4 linked regions of the Homo sapiens genome follow. The protein of the gene in region 1 purifies or fractionates together with the protein of each later gene. This does not show direct contact. Each region holds a gene or a part of one and is shown on either strand. Other genes may lie near its edges.

Region 1 (8,353 bases):
TCCAATTCCCCTCTCCTTGGATCTGGTTTGGCCTTAGTGACTACCTTGCACAACGGCATGTGGCAGAAGTGATGTCCAGGGTCTCCCGAGGCTGGGTCGGAGGCATCCTTACAGCTCCCATCTGGGTCTACCGGAATCGTCTTGGAGGTTTGCGCCGCCATGGAAGAAGGCTGACTACGCAGGCTGCCGTGTCGTGAGGAAGCCCGAGGCTTTGTGGAGAGAAATGCATGGAAACGGTTTCAGTCCCCAGCCGAGACCCTAGGCATCAGGGAGCAGAACATCAAAACTGCGGACTTGGGATACAAATGAATGATCACTGTTGTTGCAAAGCCCTTACGTTTTGAGGGTGGTCTTTTCGTGAAGCAATAGAGAAACGGAACGGGGAGACGGACAGTGAGCAGACAAGCAATAATACGAAGCAGAAGGGGGAAAAACGTGGACCAAGGGATAGAGAAGAGGGCATGGAGAGAAAAGGCTGGGGTTGAGGGCTTAACATATTAGACAAGGGGGTCACGGAAAGCCTCCCTGCTTCTCTCTGTTTGCTCCAAACTCTTGCTTCTCTTTGCTTGCTCAGCATCAGCGCATAGCGCATAGAACCCCCAAAGGCCACCCCACAATGGCAGCCTCAGCCCCAGAATTTACGTGTCCTGTTACAAGTCCTAGGGCCACAACAAACTCTCTGGACTCATTTGATTTTCTTCTAATGTTTTATACACACACACACACACACACACACACACACACACACACACACATATATATATGTATTTTTTTTTTTTGAGACGGCGTCTCACTCTGTCAGCAGGCTGGAGAGCGGTGGCGCAATCTCGGCTCACTGCAACCTCCGTCTCCCGGGTTCAAGTGATTCTCCCGCCTCAGCCTCCCAAGTAGCTGGGACTACAGGTGCTCGCCACCACGCCTGGCTAATTTTTGTGTTTTCAGTAGAGACGGGGGTTTCACCATATTGGCCAGGATGGTCTCCATCTCCTGACCTCGTGATTTGCCCTCCTCGGCCTCCCAAAGTGCTGGGATTACAGGTGTGAGCCACCGCACCCGGCCTCTCATGTAAAATAATTAAAAAAAAAAAAATTCTGGGCCGGGCGCGGTGGCTGACGCCTGTAATCCCAGCACTTTGGGAGGCCAAGGCGGGCGGATAACCTGAGGTCAGGAGCTCAAGACCAGCCTGGCCAACATGGTGAAACCCCGTCTCTACTAAAAAATACAAAAATTAGCTGGGCATGATGGCGGGTTCCTGTAATCCCAGCTACTCCGGAGGCTGAGGCGGGAGAAAAACTTGAACCCAGGAGGCGGAGGTTGTAATGAGCCGAGATCGCGACATTGCACTCCAGCCTGGACGACAGAGTGAGACTCCGTCACAAAAAACAAAAAACAAAACAAGAACCAAAAAAAACACATAAAAAACAAACAACAACAACAACAAACGAAACCTCTAATCACAGGTCAGTTTTACTGTTTCTCAGGTCCAGACTCGTTCTGTGCTGTTGGCAGGGTATCCTGCAGTGGCCACTCCTGTCTTACTAACAGACCCTGATTTTGTCCACAGGATCAACACACCCAGCTAAAACAGCTCAACTTCCTCATCACACAACACAGTTCTGGCCAGTTAGACACACGTCCCCGGAAAGGGCATCTCCAGGAGAATAAAAAGGCCAAGCCACTTTTTGAAGAAAGTCTTTGTCCCTACCCCCTTTTTCTACCTGGAAGTCAGACTCAGGCCTGGAGTGTAGCGGCCGCCTTGGTACCTGGAAGCAACAATCATGGCCGGGAGACCTTACACCTGGCATGGTAGAGCAGACGGAGGAGGGGCCGCCTGGTGAATAGCCTGGCCAACAGCCCCAAACTGCTACCCCTTAAATTCTGGGTAGGTGAGAAAAATAAGTCCTGTCTAAGCTGCTCATTGTTTTAGTTACCTGTAGCCAAAGTTAAATCCTGCCTAAAAGGGTTCTCCCCTCATTTTTATATTACATGCCATTTTTTATTTTATTTTATTTTATTTTATTTTATTTTATTTTATTTATTTAGAGACAGAGTTTCGCTCTTGTTGCCCAGCCTGGAATGCAATGGCGCGATCTTGGCTCACTACAGCCTCTGCCTCCCAGGTTCAAGTGATTCTCCTGCCTCAGCCTCCCGAGTAGCTGGGATTACACGCACCCGCCACCACGCCCAGCTAATTCTTTTTTTTTTTTTGAGCCGGAGTCTCGCTCTGTCGTCCAGGTTGGAGTGCAGTGGCGCAATCTCAGCTCACTGCAAGCTCCACCTCCCGGGTTCACGCCATCCTCCTGCCTCAGCCTCCCGAGTAGCTGGGACTACAGGTGCCCGCCACTGCGCCTGGCTAATTTTTTGTATTTTTAGTAGAGACGGGGTTTCACCGTGTTAGCCAGGACGGTCTTGATCTCCTGACCTCGTGATCCGCCCGCCTTGGCCTCCCAAGGTGCTGGGATCACAGGCGTGAGCCACCACGCCCAGCCAAAAAGTTGTTTTAAAATTTTTTCGAGAGATAGGATCTCGCTTAGTTGCCCAGGCTGGTCTTGAACTCCTGGGCTCAAGCAATCTTCCCACTTTGGACCCCCACAGTGCTGGGATTACAGGGGTAAGCCACCACACCCAACCTCAATCTTCTTGTGATCTGTTATGTTGACAACCAAGACAGCTACTTAGTGGTTGGTTGATGGGTGGACAGTGTATACAGCATGGACACACTGGACAGAGGCATGACTCAATGTTCCAGGTAGGACGGCAACAGATTTCATCACGCTACTCAGAACAGCACAACATTTAAGACATAAATTGTTTCTGGAGTTTTTCATTTAGTATTTTCAGATTTCAGGTGACTGCTGTAACTTGAAGCAAGAAAAGTGAAACTACAGAAAAGGGAGGACCACTGGACGGCTGCTTTCATTCTACGCCCACTTTTTAGAGTGCATTCCTACAATAAGCACCCTAATAATGTAAACCAGGGGCCAAGGGATGCACCTTCCACTCTACTTCCTTCCCCAGAAAAGACCACCTTGGTAAATACAGAATGGCAAACGGTTAAGTGAAACACTGTATAGCTTCTGGCCCTATACTTAGTATTTCTTAACATTTACACAGCATTTTCACATTTCCAAAGCAGAGTACCAACATTTATTAATCCTCACAACACCCCTGTGAGGTAGGTCAGTATGTCCTTTAGAGTCGAGAACTGAGGCAGAGGTCAAGCAAACCTGCCCTGGGCCACAGAGCAGCAGATGAAGGGCCTAGACCTGGATCCAGAAGCTAGGGCTCTCGGTCCAGCATTCATCCACTGGTGGACATCACATGGGCTTATTTTTACCAGCGAAGGTTACGTGAAGGACAAAACGCACTCAGCCAGCAACGGAAACTCAACAGTTCAAACAGCACTGGGGAACATGTCAGTTAAAGAGACGAAACGCTGACCAGCTCATGAATGAGGCAAGACAACATGCGGCTGAGGAAGTGTGGAATCATCACGACTGGGGATTAGACCAAGAACGGGCGCTCAGGAGGGTTCAGGAAAATGTAAACAAACTAGGAACCCATCCAAGGGGTGACAGGCCCAAATGCCTACGGTCTCCAAATGGTAGAAAAATTAGAAAAAGATAGTGGAAAAATCCAACCACGCAACCTTAACTTTAAACTAGGAATGACAATAATGTGTCTAATGTTCATTCACACTAGAAAGGCCGATAATGTTTGTAATATAACTACTGGCGATAGTATCCTATTTGTATGCCAACTTTCATCTCAAGTATTCTGCTTTTCTTTCCCCACAGACAAACAAGTGTTGTTCTTTACAGCAGACCTCTTTCCCTCTACATACCAATCTATCCACTCGCATAACTACTAAGTGGCTCAATGGCCTATGTCTCATGCTTAATTGGCTGAGCTAGGCGCGGAATCCGGGAAACCACAACAGACTGTACTCTGCTCCTGTATTTCAGGAATAACTGTCACTAACCTGCTTCTGTCCGATTCCACCTTCTATGAAGTACACACAGAGGAGCAGTTCATTCTTTTGTAAAGGGATTGGTGGACTTTGTTCGAGATGCCATTTCAAAAGAAATGAGAAAAAAGAAAAACTAAGACCTGCACTGTAAAGCATAATACAGGAGTAGATTTATTACAGCTACTCCACATTTTAGAGAGTGCCACAGTGTCTCGGTAGGAGGCAGGAACCCGAGTTCCTGGTTCAGAAACAGGGTTAGAAACAGTCTCCCGATGGAGCTCAAGTGGCTGTCATCTGCCTGTTCTCCTCAGGTATCGAGTGGGATCAGTTGAGGGCTGAGCAAAAGTGGGGACTGGGAAGATGACGAGAAAAGATAACTTTTCGTAGATTGTTGAGGCCGCAGTCAGACTGAGGAGTGAACAGTGTGAAGGAGAGGTTGAGAGCCTCATGGTGTGGAAGGCATAAGGGTTAGAGGCGAGGTTGGAGGGATGTGGGTGCTGGTGTCTGAGGACTTATTGGATTTCGGGCTGTGTGTCCCTCAGCGTCTAGATTCCTGCTTCGTAGGTGATGAGACGCTGCATGTAGCATGTTCACCTCAGAGACTGTCACTTATGAGGGTGCCCATCATTATTATTTTTGGTGACAAGGTAGCTGCTATTTTCCTGTAAGCAGAAGCTGCGGAAGAAAATGGTGGGATTGGCCGGGAGCGGTGGCTCACGCCTGTAATCCCAGCATTTTGGAAGGTCGAGGTGGGCGGATCACCTGAGGTCCGGAGTTCGAGACCAGCCTCAACATGGAGAAACCCCCGTCTCTACTAAAAATACAAAATTAGCCGGGCGTGGTGGTGTATGCCTGTAATCCCAGCTACTCGGGAGGCTGCGGTAGGAGAATTGCTTGAACCTGGGAGGCGGAGGTTGCGGTGAGCCGAGATCGCGCCATTGCACTCCAGCCTGGGCAACAAGAGCGAAACTCCGTCTCCAAAAAACAAAACAAAACAAAAATGGTGGGATTAAGACCCGCCCCCGTCCCGTCCCCGCCCCTTTTCGCTCCTGCTCCGCCCCTTCCCCGCCTTCTACCTGCCTCCCTCGGTGCTGTCGGTCTGCGCGGGCGCGCAAGGGGGACTGGGACGTTCAGGCGGAAGTGGCGTCAGGGGCGCTTTAGGGACTGGACTTGCAGTGTAAACAGAGACGCTGCAAATTGCTTGTGGACGGTGTAGGCCGCTGCAGGCCACCATGAACCGGCTTCCGGATGACTACGACCCCTACGCGGTTGAAGAGCCTAGCGACGAGGAGCCGGCTTTGAGCAGGTGGGCTCCCGCCCCACCCTGGCCCCCGAGGATTTGGGTCGAGGCCTGGCTTTGGTCGCCTCCATTCGTTGCGCCTGCCGAGCCTACGCAGACCCTAGCGGCTCGGGAGCCTGTCGTGCCTGTTACTTGTGCGAAGCCAAAGGGCTTTCCTGATGGGGTCGCGCAGTCCCGGGGGGAGGCGGTGCCGATGTCGCCTGTAGGAAGAGGGATATTCCGGAATCACGGGGGACCGCGTGTAAATCTTCAAAAGCAATGAGATCGAAACCTGTCTCTACACCTTAGTAGCAGAGTGACGGAAGGCAAGTCAGTTATCCTCGATTACTCACCTGTAAAATTGAACTATAATAACATAATTGTATAACCTATATAACATAGTATAACACACTATGTTTGTTGTGAGGCTCACAGGACTTAATGTGAAGTGTCCATCTTGAAGACTAAACTGCCATAAACAGAAATAAGGGAATATTGAACAGCCTTTTTTATTTTTATTTTTTGACAGGGACTGTTGTATGCTCGCTCTGAGCTACAGAGATAAATCATAAGGTCCTTGTCTTCCAGAGGCTTATAGTATAATAAGGGTAATAAGATAAAGTATATATTTCTTGGCAGAGCATTGTAGAGAATATTGACCTGAGATAGGCACAGAAGAAGGTTCGTGGGATTTCCAGAAGGGTGGGCTTTATTCTACCAGGGAAACTTGAAGCTGTTTTGCCGAGATATTTCCACACAAATTTAGTTATTTCTTAAGCTGTCAGCAGATCCTATTCTTAAACTTTAAAACATTCATTCTGCCTAAAGAAGCTTTCTGTAAAGCCATGCTTTCATTAACAACTTTGGCTGGGTGTGGTGGCCCATGCCTGTAATCCCAGGACTTTGGGAGTCTGAGGCGAGAGAATCTCTTAAGCCTGGTAGTAAAGGAACAGCCTGGGCAACATAGTGAGACCTCATTTCTTAAAAAAAAAAAAAATCAAAAGAACAATGTTTCCTCATATTGTCATGGGGAGACATTGGATGCATGGGAAATCAGACTGCTGTTAAGATTTCTTTTGTTGGGAGTGAGGATAGATACCAGGATTCCCTGTGAAAAAGAGTTTCAGTTAATGGGTCCTGTCTGTGAAAGGAGGTATGTATATATGTATGTCTCAATTATTTATTTATTTATTTATTTATTTTGAGACAGAGTCTCACTCTGTCAGCCAGGCTGGAGTGCACTGGTGCAATCTTGGCTCACTGTAGCCTCCACCTCCTGGGTTCCAGCAATTCTCCTGCCTCAGCCTCCTGGGTAGCTGGGATTACAGGCATGCGCTACCACACCTGGCTTATTTTTTGTATTTTTCGTAGAGATGGGTTTTCACCACGTTGGCCAGGCTGGTCTTGAACTCCTGACCTTAGGCAATCTGCCTGCGTCGGGCTCCCAAAGTGCTAGGATTACAGGCCTGAGCCACGGAGCCAGGACTGTTGTATCATTTTTTTAAGGAAGCTTTATAATTCTGTGACAGTTGCCACTGGTAAGGTAACTGTAAAGATAAATATTATAAAAACAAAACAATGTTATCAGACAGTATTGCCTGTTGTAGGCTCTGAGCCAAATGGTTATTATTTTAAAAAGGGAGATTAGTGTTAGAGAGGTGTCTGTCAGTATTTAATTTTACACTGTTTATAAACTAATACATTGTAGCCTGTTAACTGTTTCACGGTAGCTGACCGAAGACATGAGACTCCTGGGTCAAAGATAAGACTACACATAGCACAGCAAGCAGCATGAGCATCATGTTTGTGTGGCTTGCTCTTGCTTGTCAACCCTACAGGTATTACGCTGAGGGTCCTAGAAGAATGCTGCACATTCAGTGGGTTGGCATCGTGGCTAAAGACTACTTGAGCTTGGAGAATCCACCTCTTTCATAGAAGACAGTAAATACATCTGCTCTTTGTCCTGGAAGGAGACATTATCTCATTCCTCAAGGTTGTTGTTCGCTGCAAACACAATCCTGAGAAATGGCTGGAGTGAACAGTGGTCAGAACCTTGCATTCTTGGCATACTTAACTTGCATATCTAGGGTCCATGATGTATGACTGCCTTTCTCAGCAGTGCTGAAAACTGAGACTTTGGTTGAGATAATGACAAGGATTGAAGAAAATTTGTAGAAAAAATAGCTCTCACTTTGTGATTCAGTTTTTAAAAATTAAACATTTTATTTTGAAGTTTTCGTAGATTCACATTCAGTTATAAGAAATAATACAGGTCTGGTGCAGTGGCTCACATCTGTAATCCCAGCACTTTGGAAGGCCAAGGCAGGAGAATCACTTGAGCTCAAGAGTTCAAGACCAGCCTGAGCAACATGATGAAATCATGTCTTTACTGAAAATACAAAAAATTAGCTGGTATGGTGGTGCATATCTGTGGTCCCAGCTACTCAGGAGGGTGAGGCGGTTGGTTGGCTTGAGCCTGGGAGGCGGAAGTTTCAGTGAGCCAAGATGGCACCATTGCACTCCAGCCTGGGCAACACAGGGAGACCCCCATCTCAAAAAATAAAAAATAATAAAAAAAAAAGAAATAATACAGAGAGATCCTGTGTACTCTTTCCCCAGTTTCCTCCAGTGTTAACATACTACAAAACTATAGTGCAGTATCACAACCAGGATATCTATCTATCTATATATCTATCTATGTATTTTTTGAGACGGATTCTGAATCCTGTAATCCCAGCTACTTGGGAGACTGAGGCAGGAGAATCGCTTGAGCCCAGGAGGTGGAGGTTGCGGTGAGCAGAAATCATGCCACTGTACTACAGCCTGGGCGACAAGAGCGAGACTCTGTTTCAAAAGAAACAAACAAACAAACAAACAAAAAAACCATCCTGGGCAACATGGCGAAACCCCATTTCGACAAAAATTAAACAAAACAAAACAAAACAAAAAAACAGCTGGGAATGGTGGTATGTGCCTGTAGTTCCAGCTACTGGGGAACCCGAGGTGGGAGGATTGCTTGAACTGGGGAGGTGGAGGTTGCAGTGAGCTGAGATCATGCCACTGCACTCCAGGTTGGGTCACAGACTGAGATGCCATCTCAAAAA
Region 2 (7,495 bases), on another chromosome or scaffold:
CTGACCCCCCTACCTCCCTCCCGGATGGGGCGGCTGGCCGGGCGGGGGGCTGACCTCCCCCACCTCCTTCCCGGACGGGGCGGCTGACTGGGCAGAGAGGCTCCTCACTTCCCAGTAGGGGCGGCCGGGCAGAGGCGCCCCTCACCTCCCGGACAGGGCGGCTGGCCGGGCCGGGGGCTGACCCCCCCACCTCCCTCCCGGATGGGCGGCTGGCCGGGTGGGGGGATGACCCCCCCACCTCCCTCCTGGACGGGGCGGCTGGCCGGGTGGGGAGCTAACCCCCCCCACCTCCCTCCCGGACGGGGTGGCTGCCGGGCGGAGACGCTCCTCACTTCCCAGACGGGGTGGCTGCCAGGCGGAGGGGCTCCTCACTTCTCAGACGATGTGGCTGCCGGGCGGAGGGGCTCCTCACTTCTCAGACGGGGCGGTTGTCAGGCAGAGGGTCTCCTCACTTCTCAGACGGGGCGGCCGGGCAGAGACGCTCCTCACATCCCAGACGGGGCGGCAGGGCAGAGGCGCTCCCCACATCTCAGACGATGGGCGGCCTGGCAGAGACGCTCCTCACTTCCTAGATGGGATGGCGGCCGGGCAGAGGCTGCAATCTCGGCACTTTGGGGGGCCAAGGCAGGCAGCTGGGAGGTGGAGGTTGTAGCGAGCCAAGATCACGCCACTGCACTCCAGCCTGGGCACCATTGAGCACTGAGTGAACGCGACTCCGTGTGCCATCCCGGCACCTCGGGAGGCCGAGGCTGGCGGATCACTCGCGGTCAGGAGCTGGAGACCAGCCCGGCCAACACAGCGAAACCCCGTCTCCACCAAAAAAATACGAAAACCAGTCAGGCGTGGCGGCGCACGCCTGCAATCGCAGGCACTCGGCAGGCTGAGGCACGAGAATCAGGCAGGGAGGTTGCAGTGAGCCGAGATGGCAGCAGTACGGTCCAGCTTTGGCTCAGCATCAGAGGGAGACCATGGAAAGAGAGGGAGAGGGAGACCGTGGGGAGAGGGGAGAGGGGAGAGGGAGCCTGAAGCTTTTCTATCTATGGATTCTTCTCTGAATCTTTGGGGGTTTTTTTGAGATGGAGTTTTTGTTCTGTTGCCCAGGCTGGAGTGCAATGGCACGATCTCGGCTCACTGCAACCTCTGCCTCTTGGGTTCAGGCAATTTTCCTGCCTCAGCCTCCCAAGTAGCTGGGAATACAGGCATGCGCCACCATGCCTGGCTAATTTTTGTATTTTTAGTAGAGACAGGGTTTCTCCATGTTGGCCAGGCTGGTCTCGAACTCTTGACCTTAGGTGATCCGGCCACCTCGGCCTCTCAAAGTGCTGGGATTACAGGCGTGAGCCATTGTGCCTGGCCTGTATACAGAGTTCTTATCAGGCCCTGAAAGTATAGGTTAGAATTCAAGGCAGAGGACAGAATGCTCCTAACAGAAACTCAGTGGGGTTGTTTGAATTATCTTGTAGATTAAGCTTAGAGCAGGTATGGGGAAAGGATTGTTGGGATTGATAGGAATGAAAAATGATGAGGGAATATAGATAGCAGTATCTTCTTGGCTTGTGGTGGTGGCCATGTAGGCTAAATTCATTGTATATTAAAGAGTTAAGGAGGGCCAGGCGCTGTGGCTCACACCTGTAATCCTAGCACTTTGGGTGGCCGAGGTGGATGTATCACCTGAGGTCAAGAGTTCGAGACCAGCCTGGCCAACATGATGAAACCTCGTCTCTACTAAAAATATAAAAATTAGCCAGTGGTGGCAGTACTCGCCTGTAGTCCCAGCTACTCAGGAGGCTGAGGCAGGAAAATTTCTTGAACCCAGGAGGCGGAGGTTGCAGTGAGCTGAGATCACACCATTGCACTCCAGCCTGGGCGACAGAGTGAGACTGTGTCTCAAAAAAAAAAAAAAAAAAAATTTTTCTCTAAACAACCACACCTGGCTAATTTTTGTGTTTTTACTAGAGACAGGGTTTTGCCATGTTGGCCAGGCTGGTCTTGAACTCCTGACCTCAGGTAACCCACCTGTCTTAGCCTCCCAAAGTGCTGGGATTATAGGCATGAGACACCGCGCCTGGCCTAGGGGAAATATTTTTGACATCAGTAGTAAAGTCCCACTTCCCAAAAGAGATTAGTCTCAAAAGGAGATTTGGGTAGAAAGGGGCCAAGACAGGGCCATAATTAGGTTTCAGAGCTGGCAGAATGACCATGCCTGCTAAGAGAGTTTCAAGACATGATAGATGACCATGGGCCAGTCTTGTTGAGTCATGGGGAAACTTCCATTCTCTTTTCGGGGCTCAACTTGAACCTCATCCAGGCACTGAAGTAAGAGTGATGTGGACCTTGTTCCTTTTCCTCAAAGCTTATCTCCTGGTCGAGGAAAAGACTTTAAATCTCGGAAGGACAGAGACTCTAAGAAGGATGAAGAGGATGAACATGGTGATAAGAAGCCTAAGGTAAAGGAGAGGAAGGATATTTTTCATCTTCAACTCGTGCGTTGCTTTGTTGATCTTTAAAGGGAGAGAGCCTTTATAGACTAAAGTTCTGTTTTATCTTCAGGCCCAGCCATTATCCCTGGAGGAGCTTCTGGCCAAGAAAAAGGCTGAGGAAGAAGCTGAGGCTAAGGTAAGTACTTGAGGGTCTTCATTCATCGGCTCAGGCTGCCATAACACAATACCACAGACTGGGTGACTTCAACGACAGAAGTTAATTTTCTCACAGTTCTGGAGGCTGGAAGTCTGAGAGCGGAGTGTCAGCAGGGTTATTTCTTCTGAGGTCTCTCTCCTTGGCTTATAAGGCTGTCTTCTTCCTCAGCTCTTCACATGGTCCTCCCTCTGTACACATGTACCCCTTGTGTTGGATTAGGGCTCACCCTAAAAGGCCCTTTTTTTTTTTTTTTTTTTTTTTTTTGAGACAGAGTCTCACTCTGTCGCCCAGGATGGAGTACAGTGGCATGATATCGGCTCACTTCAACCTCCACCTCCCAGGCTGAAGCAATCCTCCCACCTCAGCCTCCCAAGTATCTGGGACTACAGGTGCGTGCCACAACGTCCAGCTAATTTTTGTATTTTTTGTAGAGTCCAGATTTCACCACGTTGTCCAGGCTGGTCTCGAACCCCTGGGCTCAAGTGATCTGCCCTCCTTGGCCTCACAAAGTGCTGGGATTACAGGCGTGAGCCACTGTGCCCAGCCTAATGGGCTCATTTTAACTTAATCACCTCTTTACATGTCCTGTCTCCACATATAGTCAAATTCTGAGGTACTAGGAGTTAGGGCTTCCACATAGGAATTTTGAGCTGGGTACAGTGGCTCACACCTGTAATCCCAATACTTTGGAAGGCCAAGATGGGAGGATCACTTGAGCCAGGGATTTTTAGACCAGCCTAGGCAACATGGTGAAAACCCATCTCTATAAAATTTTAAAAATTAGCCATCTGTGGTAGCATGCGCCTGTAGTCCCAGCTACTCAGGAGGCTGAGGCAAGGATATTGCTTGAGCCCAGGAGGTTGAAGCTGCAGTGAGCCATGATGACACCACTGTACTGCAGCTTGGGCAACAGAGCGAGAGTCTGTCTCAAAAAATATATATAACACATGCATTGTTTGTTTGTTTGTTTGAGATGGAGTCTCGCCCCGTTGCCCAGGCTGGAGTGCAGTGGCATGATCTCGGCTCACTGCAACCTCTGCCTCCCAGGTTCAAGCAATTCTCCTGCCTCAGCCTCCTGAGTAGCTGGGATTACAGGCACGTGCCACCATGCCTGGCTAATTTTTTGTATTTTTTTAGTAGAGATAGGGTTTCACTGTGCTGGCCAGGCTTGTCTTGAACTCCTGACCTCGTGATCCGCCCATCTCGGCCTCCCAAAGTGCTAGGATTACAGGCACAAGCCACCGCACTCGGCCACATTTTTTTTTTTTTTTTAAAGGTAAGGTCTTGCTCGTTTGCCCAGGCTAAAGTACAGTGGTGCAATCACAGCTCACTGTAACCTCAAACTCCTGGGCTCATATGATTTTCCTGCCTCAGCCTCCTGAGTAGCTGGGACTATATGCACATGCCATCATGTCTGGCTGAGTTTTTTTATTTTTGTAGAAACAAGGTCTGCTATGTTGCCCAGGCTGGTCTTGAACTCATGGCCTCAAGCGGTCCTCCCATCTAGGTCTCATAAAACACTGGGATTACAGGCATGTGCCACCACGTCCAGCCTGAAAAAACATATGAATTCTGTAGGGGACATAGTTCAGTCCATAACCGAGTCCAAGGCCTATTTGTGTTTTCCTCAACAGGCTTAATGCCTGAGCAAATACTTTTGGGTTCCCTGCCATCTCCCCATCAGTGATGTGATTGTACCCTGCTCCCAGATCCTTTGTTGACAGTTCCAATCTCTTTTGTAGCCCAAGTTCCTCTCTAAAGCAGAACGAGAGGCTGAAGCTCTAAAGCGACGGCAGCAGGAGGTGGAAGAGCGGCAGAGGATGCTTGAAGAAGAGAGGAAGAAAAGGAAACAGTTCCAAGACTTGGGCAGGAAGATGTTGGGTTTGTTATTCTACCCTGTGTAGCCCCTAGATGGAAGAGGAAAGAGTGGGATGAGATACAGTGTCTCTTAGGAGAGATAGAAACCTGTTCACTCTGGAGTTTGGAAAGGGGAAGGATGGTGGGAGTTTATGAGAAAACATTTTTCTGTTAGATCTCCATTTACCCCATATCATAAGTCTACCCCTTTTTTTCTTCATTTGGGGTTCCTCGTCTGGATTCCCTCCATTCCCTCTCCTCTTTTCTTCCATGAGCTCTTCTGCAGCTTTGCTTTCTTTGGTCTGCAGAAGATCCTCAGGAACGGGAACGTCGGGAACGCAGGGAGAGGATGGAACGGGAGACCAATGGAAATGAGGATGAGGAAGGGCGGCAGAAGATCCGGGAAGAGAAGGATAAGAGCAAGGAACTGCATGCCATTAAGGTGCAGGCCTTGGCTCCATCTTCACTTCTCTCCCACACAAAAATGAGGTTTAGTTATTTGGCCATTGTGATCTCTGCATGTGAGAATTGGGCCTCAAAGCTCATGTGCTTTGTGTTCTGTCCCTGGGTAGGAGCGTTACCTGGGTGGCATCAAAAAGCGGCGCCGAACGAGACATCTCAATGACCGGAAATTTGTTTTTGAGTGGGATGCATCTGAGGACACATCCATTGACTACAACCCCCTGTGAGTGGCTTCAGGCCTGAGTTCTAGGTCTTTTCCACTAGGCAGTCCTAGAGAGCTGATGACTACGGAGGTGGAGGAAGTAAGATAAGCTGGGATGGAAAATTGGTAGACTGGTAGTCAGCCAGCCCTCTGGTGGAAGAAAGACCCTGTCTGGGAAGAACTGTTTCATACTAGTAGTCTGCCCTTCCTTCCTACTGCCGTTAACAGCTCCTTCTTTTTTCTTTTCCTCTATCTCAATCCCAGGTACAAAGAACGGCACCAGGTGCAGTTGTTAGGGCGAGGCTTCATTGCAGGCATTGACCTCAAGCAGCAGAAGCGAGAGCAGTCACGTTTCTATGGAGACCTAATGGAGAAGAGGCGAACCCTGGAAGAAAAGGAGCAGGAGGAGTGAGTGATCAAGGCTAGGGTGGCTGGACAGAGCCCAGAGGCTCTACAGAAAGGAGTTGGAGGGCACTGATTCTACTTACTCCTCACACCCTGCTCCAGGGCAAGACTCCGCAAACTTCGTAAGAAGGAAGCCAAGCAGCGCTGGGATGATCGTCATTGGTCTCAGAAAAAGTTAGATGAGATGACGGACAGGGACTGGCGGATCTTCCGTGAGGACTACAGCATCACCACCAAAGGTGGCAAGATCCCCAATCCCATCCGATCCTGGAAAGACTCTTCTCTGCCCCCACACATCTTGGAGGTCATTGATAAGTGTGGCTACAAGGTAAGGAGGGATAGATTGGCCCAAGAGATCTGACATGTTCCTACACTAGTTTGGGAATAGAGAACTTTGTTCCTTGACTATTTGGAGCCATCGCTGCTAGTGGGCACCAATGTGACCTTTTCTGTCACTTTCTGGTAGAAGTGTTGGCTTTTAGTGATTAGGTTTCTTCTTGGGGTCCCTATTTCTGTGAACTGTACTTGGCATCCTTCCATTGTGCTAGCAGATGTGCTTACTACTATCAGTGGTTGCCCAGGTGGTATAACTCTCCCTGTACCTATTACTCTTTCTTGGGGTCACTGCAGGAACCAACACCTATACAGCGTCAGGCAATTCCCATTGGGCTACAGAATCGTGACATCATTGGTGTGGCTGAGACTGGCAGTGGCAAGACAGCAGCCTTCCTCATCCCTCTGCTGGTCTGGATCACCACACTTCCCAAAATTGACAGGTGAGGTCAGCTAGCACCAGCTGGAGTGGGTTTGTCTGGGTAGGAAAGGTGAAAGTGGCAAATGAATGTTTGATTTTTGTTTTACGTCTATAATCAGAAGCTTTCTTCTTTATTCTTTGTTGGATATTAGGGAATAATTGGATCATGATATCGAAGAAGTATATGTTGCTGGCAAAGACCTGGAGAACTTTGCTATCCTGGAGTCTCTGATTTATTTTATTTATTTTTTTGAGGCAGAGTCTCACTCTGTCACCCAGGCTGGAGTGCAGTGGCACGATCTCAGCTCACTACAACTTTTGCCTCCCAGGTTCAGGTGATTCTCCTGCTTCATCCTCCTGAGTAGCTGGGGATTACAGGCGTGTGCCACCACTTCTAGCTAATTTTTGGTTTTTTGTTTTGTTTTGTTTTTTGAGACGGAGTTTCGCTCTTGTTGCCCAGGCTGGAGTGCAATGGCGCAATCTCGGCTCACTGCAACCTCCTCCTCCCAGGTTCAAGTGATTCTCCTCCCTCAGCCTCCCAAGTAGCTGGGATTATAGGTGCCCGTCACCATGCCCGGCTAATTTTTTTGTATTTTTAGTAGAGACGGGGTCTCAATGTTGGTCAGGCTGGTCTCTAACTCCTGACCTCAAGTGATCTGCCTGCCTCAGCCTCCCAAAGTGTTGGAATTACAGGCGTGAGCCAGTGTGCCTGTCCTTAATTTTTACATTTTTAGTAGAGATGAGGTTTCACCATGTTGGCCAGGCTGGTCTCAAACTCCCGATCTCAACTGATCTGCCTGCCTTGGCCTCCCAAAGTGCTGGGATTACAGGCGTGAACCACTGCACCTGGCTGAATCTCTGATTTTTATGTATTTATTATTTATTTATTTATTTATTTTTTGAGATGGAGTCTCGCTCTATTGTCTAGGCTGGAGTGCAGTGGTGTGATCTTGGCTTACAGCAACCGTTGCCTCCCAGGCTCATATCCTCCTACCTCAGCCTCCCAAGTAGCTGGGATTACAGGTGTGTTCGAACATGCCCAGCTAATTTTTGTATTTTTTGTAGAAACAGGGTTTTACCATGTTGCCTAGACTGGTCTCAAACTCCTGGGCTCAAGTGATTCACTCACCTCAGCCTCCGAAAGTGCTCGGATTATAGGCTTGTGCCACCTTGCCTGG
Region 3 (7,495 bases), on another chromosome or scaffold:
ATTCTAGGCTAGATGTGTGTCACAACTATCCCACATAGTTTATTTGAACCTCACAGCAACCTTGCAGGGTGGATAGCAGTTTGTCCATTTTGCAGATGAGAGAGCTGACTCAGAGATGAGGAGGCCTAGACCTTGCCTCTGTCCTCCCTTAGGGACCCCTTTACATTTTAGTCCATACTGTGCTATTGTCCTGGGAAGGGATGTCTCCCCCTTCCCAGCCAGTAATAATCCTCCTTAGCCTTTACAGTGCAGGCAAGGGATACTGCTTTCTCCATGAAGCTCTCCCTGAAAGCCGGTAGTTCTTAACTTTTCCTTCTATCAGATTGCAATCTGCAGCTCTTTCCTGGTCACAGGGTCATCTGCCTCAGGGATTATTTTATGATCAACTCTTTGCACGTCTGCCTTCTGTGAACTGTTTACTCTTTTGGGGCATGGGGTGTCTGTTCCCACTTGTTTGTATGTCACTTCTAGTGTACCTGTGCTGTGCATGTCATAGGGATGCAGGAAGGCTGAAGCAACTTGAAGGGAATTTACCCAAAAGAAAGTGAACAGGAGTACTGTGTGGAATTCTGCATAGCAAAACATAGTTTTGTTGACATGAGGCACTTTGATGTCTGTGCTTATTCTTCTCAATTTTGAGGTTAATATATAACATCCCTGTATTTTGTGGTTAAATCCAGTTTACTCTTTTAAAAGTACCCCTCAGAGCCCCTTCACTTAGCGTTTGATGCCATTCGTTAGCACAGCTCCTGGGCTCCTGGGTTTCCTGGAGCAGGATGGGCATGTTTTGTAAAGGTACATAGGGAAATAAAGACAAGCTTTGTAGTTATGTAGCCAGGCCTCAGGGAAATGAGTAGAGGTGGGGAATGGAAAGGGCACCCAGATTCAAATAATGGAGCACTCCACCCGACGGGATATCCATGCCCCCTCTGCAGTGGGCACCAGCTGCTTCCCATCTGGTGCTCACTTGCCTGCCTGCATGGTCACTTAGCTCTTCTCAGTCTCAGCTTCTCTTTGTACCTTAGGGTCACATTCCCCAAGAGAGGATCTTTGGTGGCGTTTCCTTCCCCCATCATTGGCTGGAGCCCTCAAGACAGGTCTCCTTGTGGGCTGCAAGTGGTGGTCAAGTACCATTAAATAGGATGTGGACACCTGTTTGGCAGAAACTGCCAAGAGACACTTCTCCCAACAGGGTACTGCACGAGTGTTGGGGAAGTACATGATTGATGGCCTACCCCATACAAAGCCTCGCACTCACTACTGTAGGGCGTGTAAAGATGGAGAAGACACTATCCCTGCCATCAAGTGGCCTAAAACCAGTAACAATGGGGCCGGAAACACACCTACTGTTCACAGAAGGAAAAGTTTCCTATCAAATGATCATATCTGTGTTTTCCAGATAGAGTTACCCACCAACCTCATCTAACCTGTACTGAACTTGAGTCACACCTTTGACCTAATTTTTGCTTAAATGAAATACAGAGGATAGGAATAATATAAATAATACTAAAGCTACATGTTAACTCAGATGCTATGCTGAATGCAGTTTTGAAATCTAACCTTTATTATTTTTATTAAAACTTTAGTAAAGACACTGTCATTGAAATGTGATTCCCCACAATTACAGTTAGAAAAATGTGAATTTAAAAAATGTATTTTGCAACCCATAATCTGTATTGCACATATATAATCTTGCTACTCACCTGTCTTTGGCAAGTTTTATATTATTTTTTCTTTCCATGAATCGCTACGAACCTTTTTTTCTAAGAGAAATGAAGAATTAATTTTTTTCTTTTTAGAAATTCCGGGATTTCTTTAATCAAAATGAAACCAGTGATCCAGCAAGGGATACATGTGTGATCCTTACAGTGGAAGGGAGAACATTTCCGGTGGATATCTTTTATCTACAAAGGTTTGATGATGCTTGAATTCTGGATGATGGTGTTTAGAAAACTCAGCCTCTGATGTAGAATGTCAGAACTGCATTTGCTCACAACTCTAAAGGATGGGGAGGAGCATGTTTTGTGTCCCTAGTCATTGGTCTAGAATGTTCTTACCCTGCTCCGGATCACTGCTGAATTTAGTTTAAACTGTTCACACTGACATGCAAGTTTCCGTAAGTCTGTGGCCAGTAGCTCAGCCAGAGAGAGCAAAAGTGGTGAAAGGTTTTGGGGAGGGAAGCTTGATAGTTTTCAGAACTGGGGTTTACAAGGCTGCCTGTCAGCAGGGGCAGTATTGGTGATTTGAATCATTTGGCTCTCAGTTCTCTACATCCCTAGCGAGAAGGCCCAGTTGGCATTTTTAGGAGTAGCCTACTTGGACAAGGAAGGGGCCATCCTAATTCCTGTACTAGTCACTGGACAAAAAAAGACCAGGAGCCTGTTCCAGTGGCTGATAAATCCAGAGTCGTGGACTTGATTTCTGAATCGTTTTGTTGGAGAGCTCATCCATCAGGGCCATCCAGCCGACCCATAGATGCTGCTATTGGTTAGGAGGGAAAATGGGCTGGGAAGAGCGTGGGCTTCAGCACTGGGACCACAGCTTCCGATTTTCACTGGTCTGATGTCTTTGCATACTAAAGATAGCACATCTATTTGTATGGGTATATCATGTTATTTCTTTCCAAATAAAGCTAAAAATCATAGTTGACATATAATTATGGATTATTCTTGAATATTAGATTTGAAAAAAATGAATATTTATTTTGTTTATCCTGTACTAATTACCTACTGGGCAGGCCCAAACTCACTTTGATGAGCTTTGCTGCCAGATTATTAGGGTAATTGATCTGTAATTAATGAGCATATTCTAGTGATGAATTCATCCCATTTGTCTTTTCAGTCCTGTTCCAGATTATATCAAATCAACTGTCGAAACTGTGGTGAAAATTCACCAGACAGAGGGAGACGGAGACGTTTTAGCATTTCTTACTGGCCAGGTAATGCCACTGTACTTCTCTGATGAATAGACATGTTAAGACAGCACCAAAAGTAATACAGAGCCTTGTTACTTTACTCAGTCATGTATTTCATGTTTTGTTGTATTTTGTGGTTCCATAATTGTGTAGAAAATTGATTTGATGTCATTCATCTACCATCTAGATTGTCAGGGACTCGTTAGCCCCTGCCTGTTCTGTCTGCAGAGGGTTAAATGTTTTTTTAAATGTATTAGCTGATTCCAAAATAAACTAGGTAGTTGAGTGAGGGCTATTTTGTTTGCCAGAATTGGATACTACATTAGGTCCATGTCCTGCACACATGTTGCTGCTGTGTACCTCTTTTTCCAGTGACACCTTTACAGCTCATCCTGGAGGTGATAAGTGGCCATATTACTGGTAAAACAACTGAACAGACCCAAGTGCTCGCTGACGGTGGCCAGCACTATTCAGACCTGCCCTCCAACTGTAATCTTTTCCACTGCCAAACACTTTCCATGGTTCAGTAATCTTTTTTGGAGAAAGCTTACAGTGATTTTATATGCTGCAACTTGTCTATATGCATGAGATGCTTGTTTGACACCGTATATGTATGCTGAGTAAAATAGTCATCGTTTTTATTTATTGGGAACTCTTCCATTCATTGCAGATCATACCGAGTTTTTAGTAACTAATAGTGTAGTTGCAAAATTTCACCCATTGTCATCATTGTGTATTAGCATTTAATTAAATACCATCCCAGAGTGGAACATGACGGCACTGAAATTCTTGAATCTGACCAAAATTAAAGTCCAGATCCCAACTTTTATTTTCTTTCAGTATGATAAAATAGCATGCTTTAAATTGATCTCGGTTTCTTTGGTTCCTGGTTCAACGTCTTTAGGAAGAGGTAGAAACTGTTGTGTCGATGCTCATCGAGCAGGCTCGAGCACTAGCTCGCACTGGGATGAAGAGACACCTCCGAGTTCTCCCCATGTATGCAGGACTGCCTTCCTTTGAGCAAATGAAAGTGTTTGAAAGGGTGTCACGCAGTGTCAGAAAGGTGAGACTATCCTGATGACCAAGGGTGTTGGCAGCCGTCTATAATCATAATGATGCTCCTTTACTTGTTTTGAAACTTGCTAAACACAAGGCAGACTTCTAGGTCCATATTTCTGTGTAGTAGATCTAAAAGCACACAATAAATAATACATTGTGAAGATTTCTTTTTTTTTTGAGATGGAGTCTCGCTCTGTTGCCCAGGCTGGAGTGCAGTGGCGCGATCTCAGCTCACTGCAAGCTCTGCCTCCCGGGTTCACGCCATTCTCCTGCCTCAGCCTCCTGAGTAGCTGGGACTACAGGCGCCCGCCACCACACCCGGCTAATTTTTTTTTGTATTTTTAGTAGAGACGGGGTTTCACTAAGTTAGCCAGGATGGTCTCGATCTCCTGACCTTGTGATCCGCCCACCTTGGCCTCCCAAAGTGCTGGGATTACAGGCGTCAGCCACCGTGCCCGGCCTGTTGTGAAGATTCTAAACCTGTCCCACTGAAGGATCACTTTGACAGTAGTTATCAGATCAGGTGACTTCTCTTTTCTTCTCTTCTGCCTTCCTAATATTTCCCACGACACATGCTTACTTTGGCTTAAGGGATTGTTTAGGGGGATTGAGGTCAGTCAGGAGCAATAGAAAAATTGGTACACATGGTTTCTAAATAATTTGTTTTAAGTATCAGCTTGCCTATTTTAAAGGGCCAAGTTTAAATCAATTAATTCAAGGTGTGGCTTAAAAATGTTTAGCCTTGAAGTGAGAGTGAGGAAGGGTGTGGTGGAAAGCATTGGTTTGAAGGAGCTGGCAGGCAGCCAGTCCACCTGGGCCTGACTCTGCCTTTTCCTTTCATTAGATGAGGACTGCACAGAACCAGCCCGAGGACAGCTTTTACTGTAGTAGCTATTTATCAACAGATGGCAGAGAATAGAGCAGGTGAGGGATGGTCTGAGGATCCACTCCCAATTTCAGACCACCTGGAAGAGGGTGCTCAGCCCCTTGACCATTGGGATGGAGCAACATGAGTCTGCCCTGTCAAACATTAATTGCAGCCAGCCAATCAGGAGACCTGGATTCTGCCCCTGAGCTACTATGTGCCTTGGGACAACTGACTTAACCTCGAATCTGAGTTTTTGCAGCTGTAAAACGTAAATAATAATAACTTTCAGATAGGTGGTTTTATAGCATAACATCTTAATCCCAACTACATAAAAATATTAGAAAGATTATTTTATAAAATGATCATTTATAAAATAATTTTTATAAAATGATTTATAAAATGTAAAGTGCCTGAAAAAAGTTCTAACTGCTATATATATGTGTCCCCTGCTACTTAAACCCTTCAGGGGCAGCTCCCAATGTACTGGGAATAAAATTCAAATACCTCATGGTGGCCCAGAGACCACATATGATTGCATATCTGCCTCCCTCTGCAACCTCATCTTGTACTTTGTATTTTGGCTGCACTGGCTGTTTCTCCTTCCTTTGAACTGTTTCTTATTCTTGGATCTCTATAGGGTTGGCTGCTGCTTGTTACTCAGGTCTCTGCTCAAAATCTTTCACAGAGGCTCTGCCTGGCCAACAAAAGTAAAGTAGCATGCCCTATTATTACAATAATATATAATATACATGTTATATACTACATCATATCATATTGCCTCATTGTGTTAATATTTTCTTTATAGTATTTGTTGTTCTCTGAAATTATCTTCTTGTTTATGTTCAGCATGTCTTCACCCTAAACACTCAAACTAGAATGTAAACTCTGGCAGAGCAGGGGCCTTGTCTGTCTTGTTTATCCTACATCCCAGCACCTTGAACAGTGCTTGGCAAAGTGCACACCCTCAGAAAGTAATCATGATATGAATGAATAAATGACTATACCTGCGCAAGATGGAGGGTGATTTACTTTGGTTATGCCAAAGGGAAAAACTAACAAATGCTAGGCTCTGATCACTTTATATATTAATTGTATATAGTCCCTTCAGTAGCCCTAGGGGAGGTGGTAAATCTTATTATGTAGATGAGGAAACAGGTTCAGGAGGTTGAGTAACTTGTCCAGGGTCACATGATTAGGGAGAATTCAAACCCAGGGCACCCCCTGACTTGGAAACTCACAGTCTTTCTAGTATATTAAACTGCCTCTCACAGATTCTGCAATGTTGGAAATGTTAAATCTTTTAGGATTTTTACGAGTTTGTTAAAAGCAAAAAGAATAAAATGAGTTTTATTCTTCTTTCTGTGGGGAACGTAGGTGATAGTGGCCACCAATGTGGCAGAAACCTCTATCACAATCAGCGGCATTGTGTATGTGATCGACTGTGGCTTTGTGAAACTCCGAGCCTACAATCCCAGGACAGCTATTGAATGCTTGGTGGTGGTGCCAGTCTCCCAGGCATCAGCTAATCAGCGAGCAGGACGTGGTGGTCGTAGTCGCTCGGGAAAATGTTATCGCCTTTATACAGGTTAGTGTGGCTTTCCCTAAGGGTTTTTGACTTTCTTATAGTCAGCCTGGGCAACAGAGTGTAGCAAATGTTTACTCCTAATGGTAGAACTTAACATAAAATACAGGCCTTCCTCACAAGGCCCTGTGTAATCAGATCCCCACTGCTTTCCTCACTCTAAATATGGTGTTTCTTTGTTACTAGTCCCCATTGGCCAAAGCTGGCCTGTGAGTGACTGCTTATTTGCTATCCTGTTCTAACCTAACATCTGGGCACAGGCCTGTGTAGCCATTTGTCCCTAGGGTGTGGGCTGTGTGTCCTGGAGCCTGTCTTTCTTGCCTTTCTTTCTTGACTTAATGTGCTGTTTTTGTATTCCAAGATCCCTGAGTCTTGCGGAGCCTCACATTGGGTTCCCCTTTTACTTCTGGTTCAGAGCATCTTTGCCAAGTGAAAATGGAAGGTCTGTCCGGAGACTCATTCATAGAAAACAAATAGTTGGTGAGCTCCTCCTCTGTGCTGTGCATCATGCTAGGCTCTGAGGGAACAGAAGGCAATTTTAATACTGTCTCAGCCTTTCTGGAGCTTTCTATCCAGCTTGAAGACAGCCTTACCTATAGACAGTGATGGACCCAGAGCTGCTCTTTCTCTGCACTTCTCTTCTGTGGGGAATGCTGCTGACATTTTCCCCAGTTGTCCAGACTCAATTTCCAAGTCATTGTTAATTCTCTTCTTTATCCAGTATCCATCTGCATTCACTTAACCAGGCCCAGGGTTTTTTATTTTGTTTTGTTTCTTCTGGTGTGGCTGCCCCTAAAGAAGGTCCAGGGGTTTTAGCTCTGCCATTTGTCTCTTCTTTTCCTTTCTGGTTATTATTGTCCTTGTTCAGTCTTTGATGTTGATCTTTCTTTTAGCAGATGTTTGCAGAGCACCTGCTGTATGCTGGCCACGGTGCTAGAGCTTGGAGATCTGGGGCTAGTAACCATGGTCTGTGGCCACAGTGACTGACAGTCTGGTGGTGGAGGTAGACCTCAAAACAGATCAGCATATTATGGTATGATAGGGAGCCATAAAGAATCGGGAGCCTTGGAAG
Region 4 (8,246 bases), on another chromosome or scaffold:
CAGCCTTGACCTCCTGGGCTCAAGGGATTCTTCTGTCTCAGCCTCCTGTGTATCTGAGACTACAGGTACTCACCACCACACTTGGCTAATTATTTAATCTTTAATTTTTTTTTTTTTTGTAGAGATTGGGATCTTGTTATGTTGCTCAGGCTGTCTCTAACTCCTGGCCTCAAATGATCCTCCTACCTCAGCCTCCCAAAGTACTGGGATTCAAGACATGAGCCACTGCACTCGGCCAATTTCACCTTTCTTTTTTAATGTGACCACCTGAAAATTTTAAATTACATATGTGGCTTATATCATATTTGTATTGAATATTGCTGCTCTAGAGACTCCAATGTATGCACTGGATTAAGCTATGGGGTCAATCATTATATGTTCCAGTAATCTATGGGGTCAATCAATATATGTTCCTAGTAATCTGCGGTAGACTTTCCTCACAAAACTCTGTAGTCAAATACATTCAGGAACTGTAATAGGTTGAACAAAGTTACACAGATTTCTTTACAAGAGATCTTCCAGGTCTTTAATATGCAAATGTTTATCATAAATCTCAAATACTCTCATTTCAAAGGAAACTAAGGCACAGAGGGATTAAGTAACCTGCTTAAGGTCATTTGGTTAGTAAGCGATGAAGCCAAGATTCAAATCCTAGTAATCTGGCTCTCAGAGGAAGGCCTCTAGAAGGAAATGAAGAGTTTGAGATTTTAGTGAATTGTACCATTGTTCTATATAAAGATAAAGCTAAGAGCCCAGTCAGTGGAGCTTGCACTTTAAATTATTTCTCAAATTGTGGAGATCAATTTGTGCAGACTTACCTGTATGTCTCTCATTCAGTGGTCCTACAACCAAGAGCTTGTCTTTGAAAAAGTGGAAAGGATAAGAAATACAAATTCAAGCTATGAAATAGAGACTTAAGACATTTTTTAGTCTGCCAGGGAAATCTATGAATTGACAATTAGATAACAAAAAATATCATTAAATTTAATAATGGCACTATGACTACATACAAAAATGTCCATAATTTTTAGAGATGCATAATGACATATATAGGGGTGAAATGGCAGTATCTGCAGTTTTGCTTTCGTTATTTCACAGAGAGGTGCAGAGAAGTTAATAAAAGGATAAGGAGGCCAGGTGCGGTGGCTCACGCCTGTAATCCCAGCACTTTGGGAGGCTGAGGCAGGCAGATCACGAGGTCAGGAGATCGAGACCATCCTGGTTAACACGGTGAAACCCCGTCTCTACTAAAAATACAAAAAATTAGCTGGGCATGGTGGCGGGCACCTGTAGTCCCAGCTACTCGGGAGGCTGAGGCAGAAGAATGGCGTGAACCTGGGAGGCGGAGCTTGCAGTGAGCCGAGATGGCACTACTACACTCCAGCCTGGGCGACAGAGTGAGACTCTGTCTCAAAAAAAAAAAAAAAAGAAAGAAAAGGATAAGGAAGATAGATGAAGCAAATATATTAACTTTGTTAACTGTTGAATGTGGGGTGACAGGTAGTGCATGATACTATTCTCTATATGTTTATGTTTGAAATTTTTCATTAAAAAATGTTAAGCTGTATGTTGAAAATCATTCCTTTCCCATACTCTTTTCAACAATTATAATTTTTAATGGCTAGGTAGAAAACTAAAGTTACGGCTTCAAAGCAGGTTATCATTATTATAACATCTAAAGTAAAAATTGCTTTGAATTTGCTCCCATTAAGATACATTTTATCTTCATTATCTTCATTATTCACTTCATCCTGACTCCAGCTACAGAATCATCTTTTGGGCCTTATAGGGAGTATCAAATCAACAATCAAGAACAAGTAGGCCAGGCGCGGTGGCTCACATCTATAATCCCAGCACTTTGGGAGACCGAGGCAGACAGAGTCCAGGAGTTCAAGACCAGCCTGGGGTGAAACCCCATCTCTACTAAAAATACAAAAATTAGCTGGGCATGTAGTCCTGTGACTTGGGAAGCTGAGGTGGAAGAATCACTTGAACCTAGGAGGTGGAGGTTGCAACTGAGCCAAGATGGCACCACTGCACTCCAACCTGTGCAACAGAGACTCCGTCTCAAAAAAAAAAAAAATAGAAAGAAAACTGATACAACTATACTAGTTAATAATAATTCTGGCCCAACAAGTGCCTATCATTTTTTTCCATACAAGATTTTTTTTAACTTTCAGAATGGTTGGAATTAATCATAAAAGCAGATTTTTAGCTAAACCTCAGTCACTTTATTGGGAAAAGACAGTTTCCTCACAATTTTTTTTTTAAGTAGGAACAACACATCCCAAATCTAAGAGATGACTGTTTCTTCTTCCTAGTTCCCAAAGAGTTTACTAGGAACTAAACTGCTACCATGTAGATATCTTATTCCTTAATAAATAATAAGCTTCTAAAAGGCAAAGAGAGGTTTTAGACTTATTTTCTTTGTATGCCTATTGTATCCCAAGTAAAAGTGCGAAGGGACAAGGAAAATACCATTTATTGAGGATGTATATGTGTCAAGCTCCACACCATCACTTTATTCTTATTTTTATTTATTTATTTATTTATTTGAGACAGAGTCTTCCTCTGTCACCCAGGCTGGAGTACAGTGGTGTGATCTCGGCTCACGGCAACCTCCGCCTCCCAGGTTCAAGCAATTCTCATGCCTCGGCCTCCCAAGTAGCTGAGATTACAGGCATGTGCCACCATGCCCAGCTAATTTTTTGCATTTTTAGTAGAGACAGGGTTTCACCATGTTGCCCAGGCTGGTTTTGAACTCCTGAGCTCAGGCAATCGCCCACCTTGGCCTCCCAAAGTGCTAGGATTACAGGTGTGGGGGTCCACACCATCATTTTAAATAAGCTTTTGGATAAGGTGTTACTCCTATATTGCAGAAACGAAGGCTCAGTGATGTAGTAATTTGCCTAAAAGTCACGTGGCTAGAAGACAGCCTAGCCAGAAACCCAAGAATGATTCAAAATAGCATGCTTGCAATTATCATGTATGTGCATAATTAATATTTAATAAATTAAATAGTTAATAATTAATATTAATAGTTAATATATTTATGGTTGCTAAAATTACATAGCTAAATGAAAGGAAAAGTTAATATTTAATTAATAAATTTATGGTTGCTAAAATTATATAGCTCCATGAAGGAAAAAAAATTGGAATTTGGGGTTAAAGCCCAAGCTCAACTCCTGACTTTTTGGCTATATAATCTTAAAATATGTAACATTTCTGATATAATTTCATCTTCTGAAAGACTGAAGATAATCATACCCACTTTACAGAGTTGTTAAGATCAAAAAGTGAAGTGAGCTGGGCATGGTGGCTCACGCCAACACTTTGGGAGGCCAAAGTGGGAGAACCGCTTGAGTCCAGGAGTTTGAGACCAGCCTGGGCAACATAGTGGGACCCTGTCTCTACCAAAAAAAAATTTTTTTTTAATTAGCCAGTTGTGGTGGTGTGCACCTGTAGTCTCAGCTACTCAAGAGGCTACATTGTGAGGATCACCTGAGCCCATAGGTGGAGGCTGCAGTGAGCAAGGATTGCACTACTGCCCTCCAGCCTGGACAACTGAGCAAGACCCTGTCTCCAAAAAAAAAAAAAAAGTGAAGGCCCTTTTGGAAGTGTAAAGCATTAATAAATGTATGACACTATTATTACTTTCTAAATTATTATACACCACTTCGGTCAGGGTAGGGGGCAGCTCTTTTTATTTTTTTATTATTTATTTATTTATTTTGAGACGGAGTTTCACTCTTGTCACCCAGACTGGAGTGCGATGGCGTGACCTCTGCTCACTGCAACCTCTGCCTCCCGGGTTCAAGTGATTCTCCTGCCTCATCCTCCCAAGTAGCTGGGTTTACAGGCCCCCGCCTCCATGCCCGGCCATTTTTTTTTTTTTTTTTGCATTTTTAGTAGAGATGGGGTTTCGCCATGTTGGCCAGGCTGGTCTCGAACTCCTGGCCTCAAGTGATCCGCCCGCCTCAGCCTCCCAAAGTGCTGGGATTACAAGCGTGAGCCACCACGGCCGGCCGTGAGGGTGGATCTTTTTAAAGCCAGAAATATTTGCTCTTTAAAGTCTCAAAAGCAAAACTGATCTTTATGGATTCTGGTGCTTAATTGCAGAGGTGGGGAGGCAGTATGTGTGATGGTTATGACCACAGGCTTCGGAATCAGATCGACATCAGGTTTGTACCTCTCAGCTCTACCACCTTCAAGCTGTGTGATCTTTGGCATGCTACAATCTTTAATTCTGGGATCTTTATCTGTAGAATGTGCAAAATAATGTTCCCAATCTGATATCATTGATAGGAATGAGCAAATGTATGTAAATAGCTTTGCACAGTGTCAAGTGAGCACTTTCCTGGAGCCCTCAGTTAGCTATTAATAACTTCTCGAGCTACCATGGCCATTAACAATGGGACCTGAAGCACTGCGGATGCTACAAATGCTTCAGCAGACCCAGTGCTTGATTTCAGGAATTTCAGACGAAGGGCGACACGCCCTCAGCTGGAGATGGAGGAAGAAGGGGCAGGGTCCAGCAGGGCTGAGAGGAGAGAATTCCGAAGAAAAATCTCTCCCCAGCCCTGGGAAAGGAAAGGAACGAAGGACTGGTCAAGGAGGGTCCCCAGAGCGCCCGCCGCCCGCCCCGGCTGGGGTGGCTGAGCAGTCCACTCACAGCTCCAAGCTCTGTGGCACCGCCTTCCGAGTGTATCTGGAGATCATCCTCCTCCTCCTCCTCCTCCTCCTCCTCCTCAGCCGCGGCCGGGGCAGGCACGCCAGGGTGGGGGCCTCCGGGCCTGGCCCTCCCGCCGGCTCCGGCCCGGCCCCTCCCGCCACCTACCGGCCCCGTCTCGCCCCGTCACCTAGACTCCGAGCAGCCACCTCCCCAGGGTCCCCACCTCTCCAGTCCTCCGACCTCCCTGCTTTGCCGCGGGGGCGGAAGTGACGAAGGCCCCCGGACACTCGCAAAATGCTCCCGCCGACGCACAGCAGTGACGACACACAAGGTTTCGGGGACTGAGTGGGTTTCAGACTTTCTCTCAGGATTTCCGCTGGCTTCAGGTTCCGGTCAGGCGTCGGGACAGAGCCTGATCCAGGCTTCGGCGGCCGGTGGCAGCTCTCGATCAGCTCTCGCAGTCGGAGAGGCGGCTAAGGAAAGGTGCCACAGCAGAGACGCGAAGGAGAGGCCCTAGAACCGTAAGAGAAATTGGCTTCATTTTGTTAGATGGCAGGAGGGAGCCTAGACTGGGGAAAGAGCACTAGACTCCAAGTCAAGCCCCTGCTGCTTGGTCGCTTCTTTTTCTGTACTCTGGGTTTTCTCATATGTACAGTGAGGTATTAGCCTGAGTGATCATAGAGTCCCTTCCAGTTCTGACACCAAATTCTGCATGATGACGTGTGTTTGGCGTTATGGGGTGGATGGGTAAAATTACTGTCTGTCCCTCTGGGTTGAAAGGCAAAATGATGATTTGGTTAGACTGTGGTGAGTGGGTGTCTGGATAAGAAGAAGCAGGTTCCTTACGAGTCTCTTAGAAAGCTGAGTAAGATTGGAATCATGGAGTTAGGGTGGTCCATCCACCGCCATTTCTTTCTTTACCAAGCATCACCTGGCAGCAAGAATAAACTAGTACTCTTATTTAGGAAAACCCTTAGAAAATTAAGAGATAAGGAAAACCCTTAGAAAATTAAGAGGTATCAATGCAACCTCCATCAAAATACCAGTGACATTCTTCACAGTCATAGAAAAAAGATCCTAAAATTTATATGGAACCACAAAAGAGCCAGAATAGCCAAAGCTATCCTGAGCAAAAAGAACAAAACTGGAAGCATCACATTACCCGACTTCAGATTATACAACAGAGTTATAGTAACCAAAACAGCATGGCACTGGCATAAAAACAGGAACAGAATAGAGAACCCAGAAACAAATCCATATGTCTGCAGTGAATTCATTTTCAGCAAAGGTACCAAAAACATACATTGGGGAAAAGACAGTCTCTTCAATAAATGATACTGGGAAAACTGATACCCGTATGCAGAAGAATGAAACCAGACCCACTACCTCCCACCATATACAAAAATCAAGTCAAAATGGATTAGAGACTTAAATCTAAGCCCTCAAACTATGAAACTACTAAAAGGAAATATTGGGGAAACTCTCTAGGACATTAGAGTGGGCAAAGATTTCCTGAGTAATACCTCACAAACAGAGGCAGCCAAAACAAAAATGGACAAATGGGAGCACATCAAGTTAAAAAGCTTCTGCACAGCAAAGGAAACAATCAACAAAGTGGAGAGAGAACCCACAGAATGGGAGAAAATATTTGCAAACTACCCATCTGACAAGGGATTAATAACCAAAATATATAAGGAGTTCAAACAACTCTCTAGGAAGCAGTCTAATAATTGATTAAGAATTGGATAAAAACTCTGAATAGACATTTCTCAAAGAAGACATAAAAATGGCAAACAGGTTTATGAAAAGGTGCTCAATATCATTGATTATCAGAGAAATGCAAATCAAAACTACAATAAGATAGCATCTCACCCCAGTTAAAATGGCTGTTATCCATAAGACAGGCAATAACAAATGCTGGCAAGGATTTGGATAAAACACTGTTGGTGAGAATGTAAATTAGTGCAGTCACTATGGAGAACAGTTTTGGAGATTCCTCAAGAAACTAAAAATAGAGCTACTATATGATCCAGCAGTCCCACTGTTGGGTATTTACCCAAAAGAAAGGAAATCAGTATATCAAAGAGATATCTGCACTCCCATGTTTATCGCAGCACTATTCTCAGTAGCCAAGATTTGGAAGCAACCTAAGTGTCCATCAACAGATAATGAAGAAAATGTGGCACATACACACAATGGAGTGCTTTTCAGCCATAAAAAAAAAAATGAGATTCTGTTATTTGTAACAACATGGATGGAACTGAAGATCAAGTGGAACTGGATGGAAGTGAAATAAGGATGGCACAGAAAGATAAACTTCAAATGTTCTCACTAATTTGTAGGAGCTAAAAATTAAAACAGTTGAACTCATGGAGATAGCAAGTAGAAGGATGGTTTACCAGAAGCTGGGAAGGGTTGCAGAGGGTTTGTGGGGGAGTATGGTTAAAGGGTACAAAAAAAATAGAGTGAATGAAAACTAGTATTTGGTAGCACAACAGGGTGACTATAGTAAATAATAATTTAATTGTACATTTAAAAATAACGAAGTTCAGATGAGAGCATGTCCTGGCTATAAAAATTTTTTTAATAAAAATAACTAAAAGAGTATAATTAGAGTGTTTGTAACACAAAGGATAAATGCTTAAGGCAATGGATATCTCATTTACCCTGAGGTGCTTATTATGCATTGTATACCTGTATCAAAATATCTCATGTACCCCATAAATATATACACCTACTATTTACCCTTAAAAATTAAAAAAAAAAAACAGCACTTTGGGAGGCCGAGGCAGGTGGATCATGAGGTCAGGAGTTTGAGACCAGCCTGGCCAATATGGTAAAACCCCGTCTCTACTAAAAATACAAAAATTAGCCAGGTGTGGTGGCGTGCGCCTATAGTCCCAGCTACTCGGGAGGCTGAGGCAAAAGAATCGCTTGAACCTGGGAGGCAGAGGTTGCAGTGAGCTGCGATCACTCCACTGCACTCCAGCCTGGGCGACAGAGCGAGACTCCATCTCAAAAAAAAAAGAAAAGAAAAAGAAAAGAAAAAAAGAAAAGAAAGATATACCTACCATCCCATGAGACTTGAAAAAGGGGCAAATTTAGGACAGAGGTAAAATGACAGGACATGAATGTTTTGTAGTTCTGAATTCCTCTACGCCATACAATGTTCATAAAAGAGAGAGATGTACATTCTGTAGAGCAAGACAGATTGTACTTTAGAGTTTAAATAACAAAATTTTAAAGCAGGGAGAGATTTTAGAGATGGTAGATAACTTATCCTAAATTAAAGAAAAAAACCCAGAAAGAGAAAGTGAAATGTCCATAGTGGCACAACTAATTAGTGGCAGAACTGGGGTTTTTGATAGTATGTAAACAGTAGGTGTTAGTGCAGTGTTTCTCGAAATATATTACACATACCACTGCTAGTACAAGGGCAAACATTAAAAATTTCATTCTTCACTTCCAAAATAGGAAAAATATAAAAAGTAAAGATTTTATTCTTACATACTTACTAATTGGGGAATGTGATACTAGATTTCTATTCACTGTATTATATCAAGGTTTCCTTTTA

The links.
Region 2: the proteins of EAPP (region 1) and DDX23 purify together in Homo sapiens (affinity purification with mass spectrometry; 4 studies listed by BioGRID and IntAct, with this or other methods). This does not show direct contact.
Region 3: the proteins of EAPP (region 1) and DHX35 purify together in Homo sapiens (affinity purification with mass spectrometry; 3 studies listed by BioGRID and IntAct, with this or other methods). This does not show direct contact.
Region 4: the proteins of EAPP (region 1) and ECD purify together in Homo sapiens (affinity purification with mass spectrometry; 5 studies listed by BioGRID and IntAct, with this or other methods). This does not show direct contact.

What each region holds. Positions count from the first base shown.
Region 1 is NC_000014.9:34,536,478-34,544,830, reverse strand, and holds the start of EAPP (E2F-associated phosphoprotein), read left to right. Parts: upstream 1-5,129; 5' UTR 5,130-5,202; coding exon 5,203-5,276; intron 5,277-8,353. UniProt on the Homo sapiens protein: May play an important role in the fine-tuning of both major E2F1 activities, the regulation of the cell-cycle and the induction of apoptosis. Promotes S-phase entry, and inhibits p14(ARP) expression.
Region 2 is NC_000012.12:48,834,965-48,842,459, reverse strand, and holds part of DDX23 (probable ATP-dependent RNA helicase DDX23), read left to right. Parts: intron 1-2,353; coding exon 2,354-2,447; intron 2,448-2,550; coding exon 2,551-2,616; intron 2,617-4,379; coding exon 4,380-4,518; intron 4,519-4,802; coding exon 4,803-4,936; intron 4,937-5,066; coding exon 5,067-5,179; intron 5,180-5,422; coding exon 5,423-5,566; intron 5,567-5,665; coding exon 5,666-5,891; intron 5,892-6,193; coding exon 6,194-6,339; intron 6,340-7,495. UniProt on the Homo sapiens protein: Involved in pre-mRNA splicing and its phosphorylated form (by SRPK2) is required for spliceosomal B complex formation.
Region 3 is NC_000020.11:38,999,931-39,007,425, forward strand, and holds part of DHX35 (probable ATP-dependent RNA helicase DHX35), read left to right. Parts: intron 1-1,799; coding exon 1,800-1,912; intron 1,913-2,841; coding exon 2,842-2,938; intron 2,939-3,818; coding exon 3,819-3,977; intron 3,978-6,215; coding exon 6,216-6,426; intron 6,427-7,495. UniProt on the Homo sapiens protein: May be involved in pre-mRNA splicing.
Region 4 is NC_000010.11:73,164,813-73,173,058, reverse strand, and holds the start of ECD (protein ecdysoneless homolog), read left to right. Parts: upstream 1-5,050; 5' UTR 5,051-5,193; intron 5,194-8,246. Other genes in the region: primary cilium assembly protein FAM149B1, read right to left, coding at 4,673-4,719. UniProt on the Homo sapiens protein: Regulator of p53/TP53 stability and function. Inhibits MDM2-mediated degradation of p53/TP53 possibly by cooperating in part with TXNIP. May be involved transcriptional regulation. In vitro has intrinsic transactivation activity enhanced by EP300.